Linked DNA regions of Homo sapiens. The protein of the gene in region 1 interacts with the protein of each later gene in a pairwise test. Each region holds a gene or a part of one and is shown on either strand. Other genes may lie near its edges.

Region 1 (3,659 bases):
CTATTGTGAATTTTTGAGACAGAGCCTCACTCTGTCGCCCAGGCTGGAGGGCAGTGGCACAATCTTGGCTCACTGCAAGCTCCGCCTCTTAGGTTCATACCATTCTCCTGCCTCAGCCTCCCGAGTAGCTGGGACTACAGGTGCCCGCCACCGCGCCTGGCTAATTTTTTGTATTTTTGGTAGAGATGGGATTTCACCACGTTAGCCAGGATGGTCTCAATCTCCTGACCTCGTGATCTGCCCGCCTTGGCCTCCCAAAGTGCTGAGATTACAGGCGTGAGCCACCGCACCCAGCCTATGAATATTTTTTCTATATTTAATTGAATTTTTTTTTTTTGAGGCAGGTTCTCACTCTGTCACCCAGGTGGGAGTGCAATGGCACGATCATGGCTCATAGCAACCTCGACCTCCTGGGCTCAAATGATCCTCCCACCTCAGTTTTTGATTTTTTTTTGTAGAGACAGGGTCTCGCTGTGTTGCCCAGGCTGGTCTTGAACTCCTGGCCTCAAGCAGTCCTCTTGCCTTGGTGTCCCAAAGTGCTGTGATTACAGGTGTGAGCCACAGTGCCTGGCCTAAAGAATTTGATAACGTGAAACTTTCCCCTTTTTAAAAAATGTAGGATAAATTGAAGTATGTGTATATATGAATAATAGACAGAATTATACGTGGATAGCTGTTCCCCAGTTGTTTGCCTTTTTCATGGGGAACCAGTGTTCCAATGTTACTGGTGTCCTATGTATCCTTCCAGGAAGACAATACGCTTATACAACAATACAAAAAAAATTTGCTCTTTCCCCACCTTTATGCAAAAATGAATATATTCTATTATTTTTCTTTTTGTTTTAATCATATGAAATCATTCTGTGTATATATGAAAAACTTCATCTTTCTCACTATCCTATATAGTTTTATAGTATTATGAATGTGCCACAATTTATTTTCCAAGCTGATATTGATGTATATTTACTTTCTTTCCAATTTTTTGCTAATGCAAATGATGCTTTAAGGAGTAACATACAGATTTTGTCACACGTGTCTAGTATGCTTGTAGGATAAATTCCTGCAACTAGAATTACTGAGTTATTTAAATTTGGTAAGTATTGTCAAGTTGCCCTCCATAGAAGCTGTATTGCTCAATAAACATTTCATAGCAATTAGTAATGTATGAGAGTGTCTGCTTTCCCACACCTTCACTAACAAAATGTTACCAACATTTTTGATCTAATCTGAAAAAAGTATTTTGATGTAGCTTTAATTTGCATTTTTCTTTCTTTATTTTTTTGAGACCGAGTGTCATTCTGTCACCTAGGCTGGAGTGCGGTGGCGTGATCTTGGCTCACTGCAACCTCCGCCTCCCAGGCTCAAGCAATTATCCTGCCTCAGCCTCCTGAGTAAACTGGGCTTACAGGCGCCCACCACTATGCCTGGCTAATTTTTTTGTATTTTTAGTAGAGATGGGATTTCACCATGTTGTCCAGGCTGGTCTCGAACTCCTGACCTCAGATGATCCACTCGCCTCGGCCTCCCAAAGTGTTGGGATTACAGGCATGAACCACCATGCCTAGCTTTAATTTGCATTTTTCTTATTATGAGTTAGATTGAACATCTTTTCACGTAAAGAATTTTCATCTTCTTTTCTCTGAACAATGTTATGTTTCTTATTTTTATTCATTTTTATCTTCCCAAACCCTTATTTACATTGAAGGACTAAATTTAAATTTCTTTTGAACCATGATAAGATGCAAAGCAATTATGAATTATCACTGTATGGTGAAAGATATTTGCATCTCAAGCACTAAGTCCAAGTTAATTGTAGAGTTAGGTTTAAAATCATAGTAGATTTAGTCTGATTTCTGCCTTGGGTTTTCTGTTTTTTACCTCGTGTTGTGTGTTTGATGATGGTGAGCTTAATTGTTTTTAAATTATTTTACTGGACTTTATGTAAGCAGTAGGTACTTGGTATTTAAAATACCCAGTTCCTGAGGGTTCTTTGGTCCAACAGGGAAAGACGGGCTAAAAGACCAAGGTATTAAAGTGTTTTGGGTGTTACGGTAGACGCTTATACAGAGTACATCGGGGCCCAAAGGACAAGTATAGTCCTTTCCTCAGTGTTAGCATGAAGAGACATGAAACAGTTTCTCATGTTCTGAGAACTATAAGCTGTTGGATATAGTTGGAGCATAGGGTCAGAAGAGTATGGCAGTGAAGCAATAGGACAGGGACCAGATTGTAGCAGGTCTTGAATGACAGGAGTTTGAGGTATGATTGAATAGTACAGTGTGGGTATTTTTAAAAAATTAATGCAAGGTATGAAACACTACAAATATACTTAGAAATAAGTGCTGAAAATGCTTTATTGCTATAAATACAATTTGTTGACTATTTGTAAAACATAAACTTATGGACTTGAGAATCAGAATATGCTGATAAATGGCCTTTCTTTTGACTGACTGTGTAGCCTTGTGCAAGTCATGTGTCTGTAACTAGAGCTAGAAAGACAAACTAGTTTCTAATTCAGAGCTATATTTATTGATAGAGAACAGGAATTGAAATTTAAGATGATTGCTTTTTTTGCCTTTGTATTATTTAATGTACATTAGATAGTAGAAGATACTTGAAAGTTACTTGCAGTCTTTTCTTAACAAGTTCTTTATCATTTGCAGGGGTAATTGTTATCTCAGTACATATTTTAGATTATTTTTGTTGAAATTAATGATAGTTTATTTGTGTTGAAATTAATGATGGGTTAGGTAGTTGCAGAGAAATTGCTTAAGAACCCACCTTCAGTAGAATTACATATTGTTTGTACAGATTCAGATGTAATGACTGAAATCATAATTTTCAAAAGATAACAAAGATGTTAATTTACAGCATCTTTGCCCCAACACTTAGTATTTCAAAGATATTTCATTATGATATAATTTTGACAGGGTCGGTCAAATGGAATGACTTAAAAGTGATTCAAGATTTTACAACCTACATAGTTTTTTTTTCATAGAGGAATAAAGTAACAATGTTGATTCAATATATTAGGTGAATTTTCTTATATACCTAAAATATGTATGCTTTTAAAATTGTTTAAAGAGCACATCCTTCCTTTTCAAATATTAGGTGCTAGAGTGTGGAGTTTGTGAAGATGTCTTTTCTTTGCAAGGAGACAAAGTTCCCCGTCTTTTGCTTTGTGGCCATACCGTCTGTCATGACTGTCTCACTCGCCTACCTCTTCATGGAAGAGCAATCCGTTGCCCATTTGATCGACAAGTAACAGACCTAGGTAGGAAAAGTATTTGTATGGATTTAAGATTGAAAATTGTTCATGTAATGCAAATGTCATAGGAAACAATGTCCTTCCACTTGATTTTTAGAATGATAAAATTCCCAGAAAGTTTCAGAAAGCCTAAGTTTCTATTAAGGTCAATAATCTTCAAGCTATAAACTATCTCACTCTTAGTTACTAATTTTATTTTATCTTCTGAGATGTTTATATTCAATACTTATCTGTAAAGAGCTTTAAGACACCTGAGAAAAACGTGCTACCCTGATTCAAATAAATAAGAATGTGTATCACAGAGTGAATCATTTGCCTGAAGCCATAAACCCAATAGAACAATGTTTTCTTTACAAATAAATAAGCCAATAATGAAAATACAGATAAGTCA
Region 2 (3,568 bases), on another chromosome or scaffold:
TCAAACTTAAAAAAAAATGGGCTATCAAACCATGAAAGACATGGAGGCACTTAAATGCATATTATTAAGTGAAAGAAACTAATCTGAAAAGGCTATGTTCTGTATGATTCCAACTACATGACATTCTGGAAAATGCAAAACTATGGAGACAGTAAGATTAGTAGTTGCTGGGAGTTAAAGGGAAAAGACGAATGAATAGGCAGAACAAAGGATTTTTAGGGCAGTGATACTATTCCGAATGTTACTAAAATGATGAATACACATTTGTCAAAAATCCATAGAATGCACAACATCAAGACTGAACCCTAATGTAAACTATGGACTTAGTGTAATAATGATCTATCAATGTAGGCTCATCTATTTTAGCAAATGTGCCACTCTGGTGTGGGATATTGATAATGAGGAGAGAAGAAATAAGACCTTCTCAACTTTGTTATGAACCTAAAACTTCAACTTTGCTATGAACCTAAAACTGCTGTATTTAATTATATATATATATCTTCATATATAATATATATTTATATATAAACTGTCTAAAAAACAATAAATAAATTTATATAAATAAACTGTCTAAAAAACAAATACATAACATCAACTGAAATTTCTGAATCAAATTTAATTTCTTTTATCATCAAAAGTTAAGACATATTTCCCTCAGTCTTAGGAATTTTTATTGTTAATACAAAATAAATTATACATGCTGTATAAATTTTTATTTATAGCTAAATATTTCTTCAGTCATCACTGTCACTTCCTGATTCACTCAGCTGCAAATCATTTCCTAAAATAAGAAAGAAATAACAAAACTGTAGTAATTAAATATTTAATATTATTTTTGCATAACACAAATTTTACACAAAATATAGCCCCCAAGCGTGATTCTGTTTACCTAGTATTTTGCTTATTCTGTAATTCAGTGACACAATTAGTAACTCAAATAATACTGTGTGTAAAGAAAAAATATACCACTAAACTTCAGCAGTTTTAGTATTTCCTGGCATCTATTTTAGTCTTCTTTCACATATCCCCATCACTCTTTTTTTTATATCACTGATTTAATTAAATCGGGAAATGAGAAAAATGTAGTTTAGAAGATTAAACTATATCACTTTGAAGAGTGAAAAAAATGTTATTTTTTTTTTACTTAAAATGGAGTCAAAATCATTAAATAATATATGTCAAGGATAATTCACCATTGATTCATTTTGTAATTCATCTATGTACTTACAGTCATGGAGCTTACAGTCCAGTGGGGGAGACAGACAGTAAACAAATAAACAAATATATAACATAATGCCAAGTAGGGATAAGTGCTATGGAAAAATGAAAATGGGTATGGAGATGGCAGTGGCAGGTGCTATTTTAAATAGGGTAGTTTTGAAGGCCTTTTTGAGGGGTGACATTTGAACAGAGATCCAAATATAGGAAGAAAGTCATAAAAAATGGAGAATGTGGAGGTGAAGTGACCAGGCCAAAAGAACAGAAGTGCAAATGCCCCAAGGCAGGAGCATATTTGTTGCATTCTCTGACTTGCAAGAAGGCCACTGTGGGTGGAATGGAATGAATAAGGAAGATAACAGTAGTAAATGAGGTCAGAAAGATATCCACAAGGTCATGGTAAAAACTTTGGATTTTGTTTGAAAATGTAATGAGAATTCATGAGAAAATTTTAAGCAGGCAACTAACTTAAAACCGGTTGTAGATCAGTAAATACGCCATAATGGTGTGGAAGAAACACAGAAACAAGAGAGAAGTTGTAAGTCTAATGCAGTCTCTCATGTAAGAAATAATGTTGGCTTTGACTCAGGTAGTCTGGGGGAGGTGAGGCTAAGTGGTCAGATTCATAATGTACTTTGAAGACAGAGTTTATAGGACTAATTAAAACATTGAATTTAGGGTACAAGAGAAAGAAGTGAAGAATGACCCCAAGGTTTTTGTTGTGAACAACTGGATAAATCATTTACTGAGTTATCATTTACTGAGATGAGAAACACCAGAGGAACATGGTTGTAGAAGAAAAATCACAAGTTCAATTTTCATGTGGTAAATTTGAGATACCTAGTAAATACCCAAATATATATGGTACTGGCAGTTGGATATACAAGTCTGGAGCTAAAGGTAGAGGCTGGACCTAGAAATAAAGATTTGAGAGTCATTGATCGTACAGGTTTATCTGAAGCAAACAGACTGAATGAAATCACTTAGGTAGTAAATTACAATGGTTAAAAAAATTCTTATATTTTTTAACTAATCCGCAATCAAAAAAGCTGGCATGTTTTGAAATCAATACCTAATTTAAGAAGAATAGTTTTTAGGCCACGTATAAATTATAAGATGTTTCAGTCTTTTGCATGAACTGCAGAACTGATAACATCATTTGATAAAGAAATCTGCGAGGTCGGGCACGCGGTGGCTCACGCCTGTAATCCCAGCACTTCGGGAGGCTGAGGTGGGCGGATCATGAGGTCAAGAGATTGAGACCATCCTGGCCAACATGGTGAAACCCCGTCTCTACTAAAAATACAAAATTAGCTGGGCATGGTGGCACATGCCTGTAGTCCCAGCTACTCGGGAGGCTGAGGCAGGAGAATCACTTGAACCTAGGAGGTGGAGGTTGCAGTAAGCCGAGATCACGCCACTGCACTCCAGCCTGGCGACAGAGTGAAACTCCTTCTCAAAAAAAAAAATAAATAAATAAATAAGAAAATCTGCTAAAACTTCTTCTGTGCATCTGGTTCTCATGACCATCTCATCACTTTCATTTCTTTTTTTTTTTTTTTTTGAGATGGAGTTTCACTCTTGTCACCCAGGCTAGAGCACAGTGGCGCTATCTCAGCTCACTGCACCCTCTGCCTCCCTGGTTCAAGTGATTCTCCTGCCTCAGCCTCCCGAGTAGCTGGGATTACAGGCATGCGCCACCATGCCTGGCTAATTTTTTTGTATTTTTAGTAGAGTCAGGGTTTCACCATGTTGGCCAGGCTGGTCTCGAACTCCTGATCTCAGGTGAATCACCTGCCTTGGCCTCCCAAAGTGCTGAGATTACAGGCATGAGCCACCTTGCCTGATGCATTTCATAATTTTCAAGGATTAAGTTTCCACTTACAGAACTATTATATGACATAAGAATGTTATATGATGCCTGTAATATGAGTTTTTCAAGCGACACAAACCCAAACGTACTCAGAGTTCCATTTTGCCTTTCTAGACTTTATGCTGTCAAGGTTAGGAAATATTCAGTCAAGTTTTGAAGATATAAGATTAGCCTTTGATTATGAGTTGCTTAGTAAAGAAAATATGTTTTCAATCATAGCTGTAATTATGACTCAGAAAAAGAGAGTTTACCCATAGAAATATATTCAGGCATTTAAATCAATAGTTATCACTGAGAGTAGTACTGCCCCCCAGGGGATGATACAGAAATTTACATGAGGGGTTGCTTGTCCTGTTGGCTGTAGATTGCTAATAGCATTTAGTGGGAGGGGAGTTTAGGAATGCTAAATGTCTTGCAATGGATGAACCAGTCTTGCACAATAAAGAACTCTTCTACATTCTGTGAAATTTTTGAAAG
Region 3 (2,830 bases), on another chromosome or scaffold:
TTCACCATGTTGCCCAGGCTGGTCTGGAAGCTCTGAGCTCAAACGATCCTTCCACCTTGACCTCCCAAAGTGCTAGGGTTACAGGTGCGAGTCACCACGCCCAGCTGGTGTTTTTAAGCATGTGCTTATCTGCTCACTTACAGAGAGACATTTACTTTTCTGACTGTGCTTACAGGAAGTCACTCTGAAAACTCAGGTTTACACAACATCTACTTGTACAATCAAGCACACACTCTCAGGCTGCATGAAGTACTGTCGCAGACAGGACTGCAAACCCTCTCAGGGGTGAGAATGGCTGGCAGCAGTGCTCAGGAGAGGGATGTGGCAGGAGTCAGCTCCTAGGAAGTGCCAGCGCCCACGCACCTGTGAGCTCCTGGAGTCTGACTCACCGGGTAAGTGAATTCTTGTAATTTCCACAAACAGCCCTGGGGTTCCCCTAAACCAGACCGTGAGCCTCTTGAGACGGCGGATCCCCAACAGTGCCCAGAACCTGGGAAGGAGCTCATCGTTCTCAATGCAATTATCAAAAATGACACTGAGAAGTTATCTTTATCCTCCTTGATTCAAAAATACAATTTATTTTAAAAACAAAAAGAGGGAATGGATGCAGAAGCCCGTCTGGGCTTTCCGTGGAGTCGCCCCTTCCCAATGGCGATGGCCGCTCCCTGTGGCCTCAGCTTCCTCCGTGGAATGAAGGGGTCCAGGTGACACCTTCCTCGAAGGGTGGGCGTGGGCCTGAGGCTCCCAAGTCGGCCAGGGGCTCGGCCTGGCTCAGAAGAGGTGCTTCACATCAACAGTGGTACGGGGTGGCCGCTGGGCCCTGGGTAGCGTGGGGTAGGGGTCGGGGGAAGTCGCTGTAGGGCAGGCTGAAGGGGTAGAGGGGTCTGTAACGTGAGTCCTGCCAGAGCAGCTTGTCCTCCAGGAAGGCGACGGTGGGCAGCGTCAGGACCAGCGTCTGGTGCTTGAGCATGCTGTGCACATTTAGGCCTGGGGGCGGGGTGGGGGCGGGGCGGGGGGCCGGTCAGGCCGGGGCTGCCTCTCTCCTCACCCCACCCACATCGGAGTCCCTTTGTGCTTACAGAGATCGTCACTGTGGTCTAGTGTGACTTTGTGAGCCCAGCAGCCCGGGGCCAGACCCTGCCTGGCCGCTTGTTGCCTGTAAGCCTCTGGCCAAGGAGCTGCTCCCAGCTCATCACCTGCTGACCGAGAGCCAGGCTCGGTCCTGTGCCTGGCTGGGACTCCTGGCTCCCATTCTGGTGGGGGAGACCCAGGGCAAATGACGGGAGGGCAGGGAGGTGACGGGGCACATCGTGCAGGGCCTGACGTGCCACCCTGATGACTTGGGCTTTCATCCTGAGAGAGGTGGGGAAGCCAGCGAGGGGCGTGGGTTGAGGGACAGGACTTGACTTAGGCTCATGTCGCCATCTTGTGGCTGTGGAAGGAACAGACTGTGGCTTTGACAGAGGTGACTTTGGAGCTTTTTTTTTTTTTTTTTTTTTTTTTTTGAGACAAGAGTCTAGCTCTCTCCCCAGGTTTGGGTGCAGTGGTGCGATCATGACTCACTGCAGCCTTGGCCCCCTGAGCTCAAGCTATCCGCCTGGCTCAGCCCCCGAGTAGCTGGGACTACAGGTGCACATCGCCACGCCTAACTTTTTTATTTTTAGTACAGATGGGAGCCTCACTATATTGCCCAGACTGCCTTGGCCTCCCAAAGTACTGGGATTACAAGCGTGAGCCACCATCCCCAGCCAAGCACTTCTTTAGGAAAGATTATTGCTTTGGGCAAGCTGAAGGTTGGGTCCGGGAGCGTGGTCACTGCCTGAGGCCACTCAGCGACCAGATGCCGGATTTGAACCGCTGTGATTCTAACAGCGGAGCCTGCACATGCGCACTCTAGGGGCCTGGGCTCTTTGCTCACCAACAGCCGGGATCAAGTTGAAGGTCTTAAGCCTAGAGGTGGCCTCCACGATGCTCTGTGGCATCTCCTCGTGTGTTCTGTAAGAGAGGCCAGGGAGTGGGGGTTGAACCCTCAGAGTACGGAGCTCAGGGCCCCCTGCCCCTGCTCTGCCCTGTGCCCTCACAAGTCCACGAGGAGTACGGAGTCCCCCCAGCGGCGGTAGTGCGCCAGCTCTGTCAGGTACTGTGGGTCTCCGGTGGGCAGCTCTAGGGAGTCCATGATGTGCAGGTCGTCCTGGTGGAAGGAAAGGATGGTTTGAACCCTGGGTCCAGAGCAGCCCCACCTCTAGCAGCTGTCTGGGCCCCCCCATGGCTGTACCTGGGCCAGCTTGACGGTCAGTGCCACTTTGAGACCCAGCGCCCGCACCTTCATGGGCAGCATGTAGTAGTAACTTGTGGGGCCCCGGGGGCCATGGGCAACACCTCCTGCGGGGACAGAGGCATGTGAGCAGGTAGGGGCCACTGCAGAGCCTGGAGGTCAGCAATCTGCTGCAGTGGCTGGCATGGGGTGACGAGAGAGGGGGCGCTGCCAGGAACAAGGCAGAGAGGGTGGGGCCTCAGGGGAGGCTGGATCAGGGACAACATGGGACCAGTGACTTTGCTTCACTGGGCTTCAGTTTTCCCAGCTGTCACACTCTGAGACAGGGCTGGCGAAGGTGGCTCACACCAGCATTTTGGGAGGCTGAGGATGGAGGATCACTTGAGCCCAGGAGCTCAAGGCTGCAGTGAGCTATGATTGCACCACTGCACTACAGCCTGGGCAACAGAGCGAGATCTTGTCTCAAAAGCAAACAATAAAAAAAACAAACCACCTTGAGATCGGACAGTTCCTGCCCCATAGGACACCATGAGTTATGGTGTGGATTCCATAGAG

What was found.
Region 2: the proteins of TRIM23 (region 1) and EAF2 interact in binary tests that used the Homo sapiens proteins (3 or more experiments, as listed by UniProt).
Region 3: the proteins of TRIM23 (region 1) and MRPL4 interact in binary tests that used the Homo sapiens proteins (3 or more experiments, as listed by UniProt).

The regions. Positions count from the first base shown.
Region 1 is NC_000005.10:65,617,708-65,621,366, reverse strand, and holds part of TRIM23 (E3 ubiquitin-protein ligase TRIM23), read left to right. Parts: intron 1-3,111; coding exon 3,112-3,274; intron 3,275-3,659.
Region 2 is NC_000003.12:121,883,555-121,887,122, reverse strand, and holds the end of EAF2 (ELL-associated factor 2), read right to left. Parts: intron 782-3,568; coding exon 735-781; 3' UTR 597-734; downstream 1-596. UniProt on the Homo sapiens protein: Acts as a transcriptional transactivator of TCEA1 elongation activity. Acts as a transcriptional transactivator of ELL and ELL2 elongation activities. Potent inducer of apoptosis in prostatic and non-prostatic cell lines.
Region 3 is NC_000019.10:10,257,774-10,260,603, reverse strand, and holds the end of MRPL4 (large ribosomal subunit protein uL4m), read right to left. Parts: intron 2,383-2,830; coding exon 2,276-2,382; intron 2,192-2,275; coding exon 2,082-2,191; intron 1,996-2,081; coding exon 1,919-1,995; coding exon of another isoform or gene 1,866-1,918; exon of another isoform or gene 1,433-1,865; coding exon of another isoform or gene 1,098-1,432; exon of another isoform or gene 988-1,097; coding exon 791-987; 3' UTR 549-790; downstream 1-548.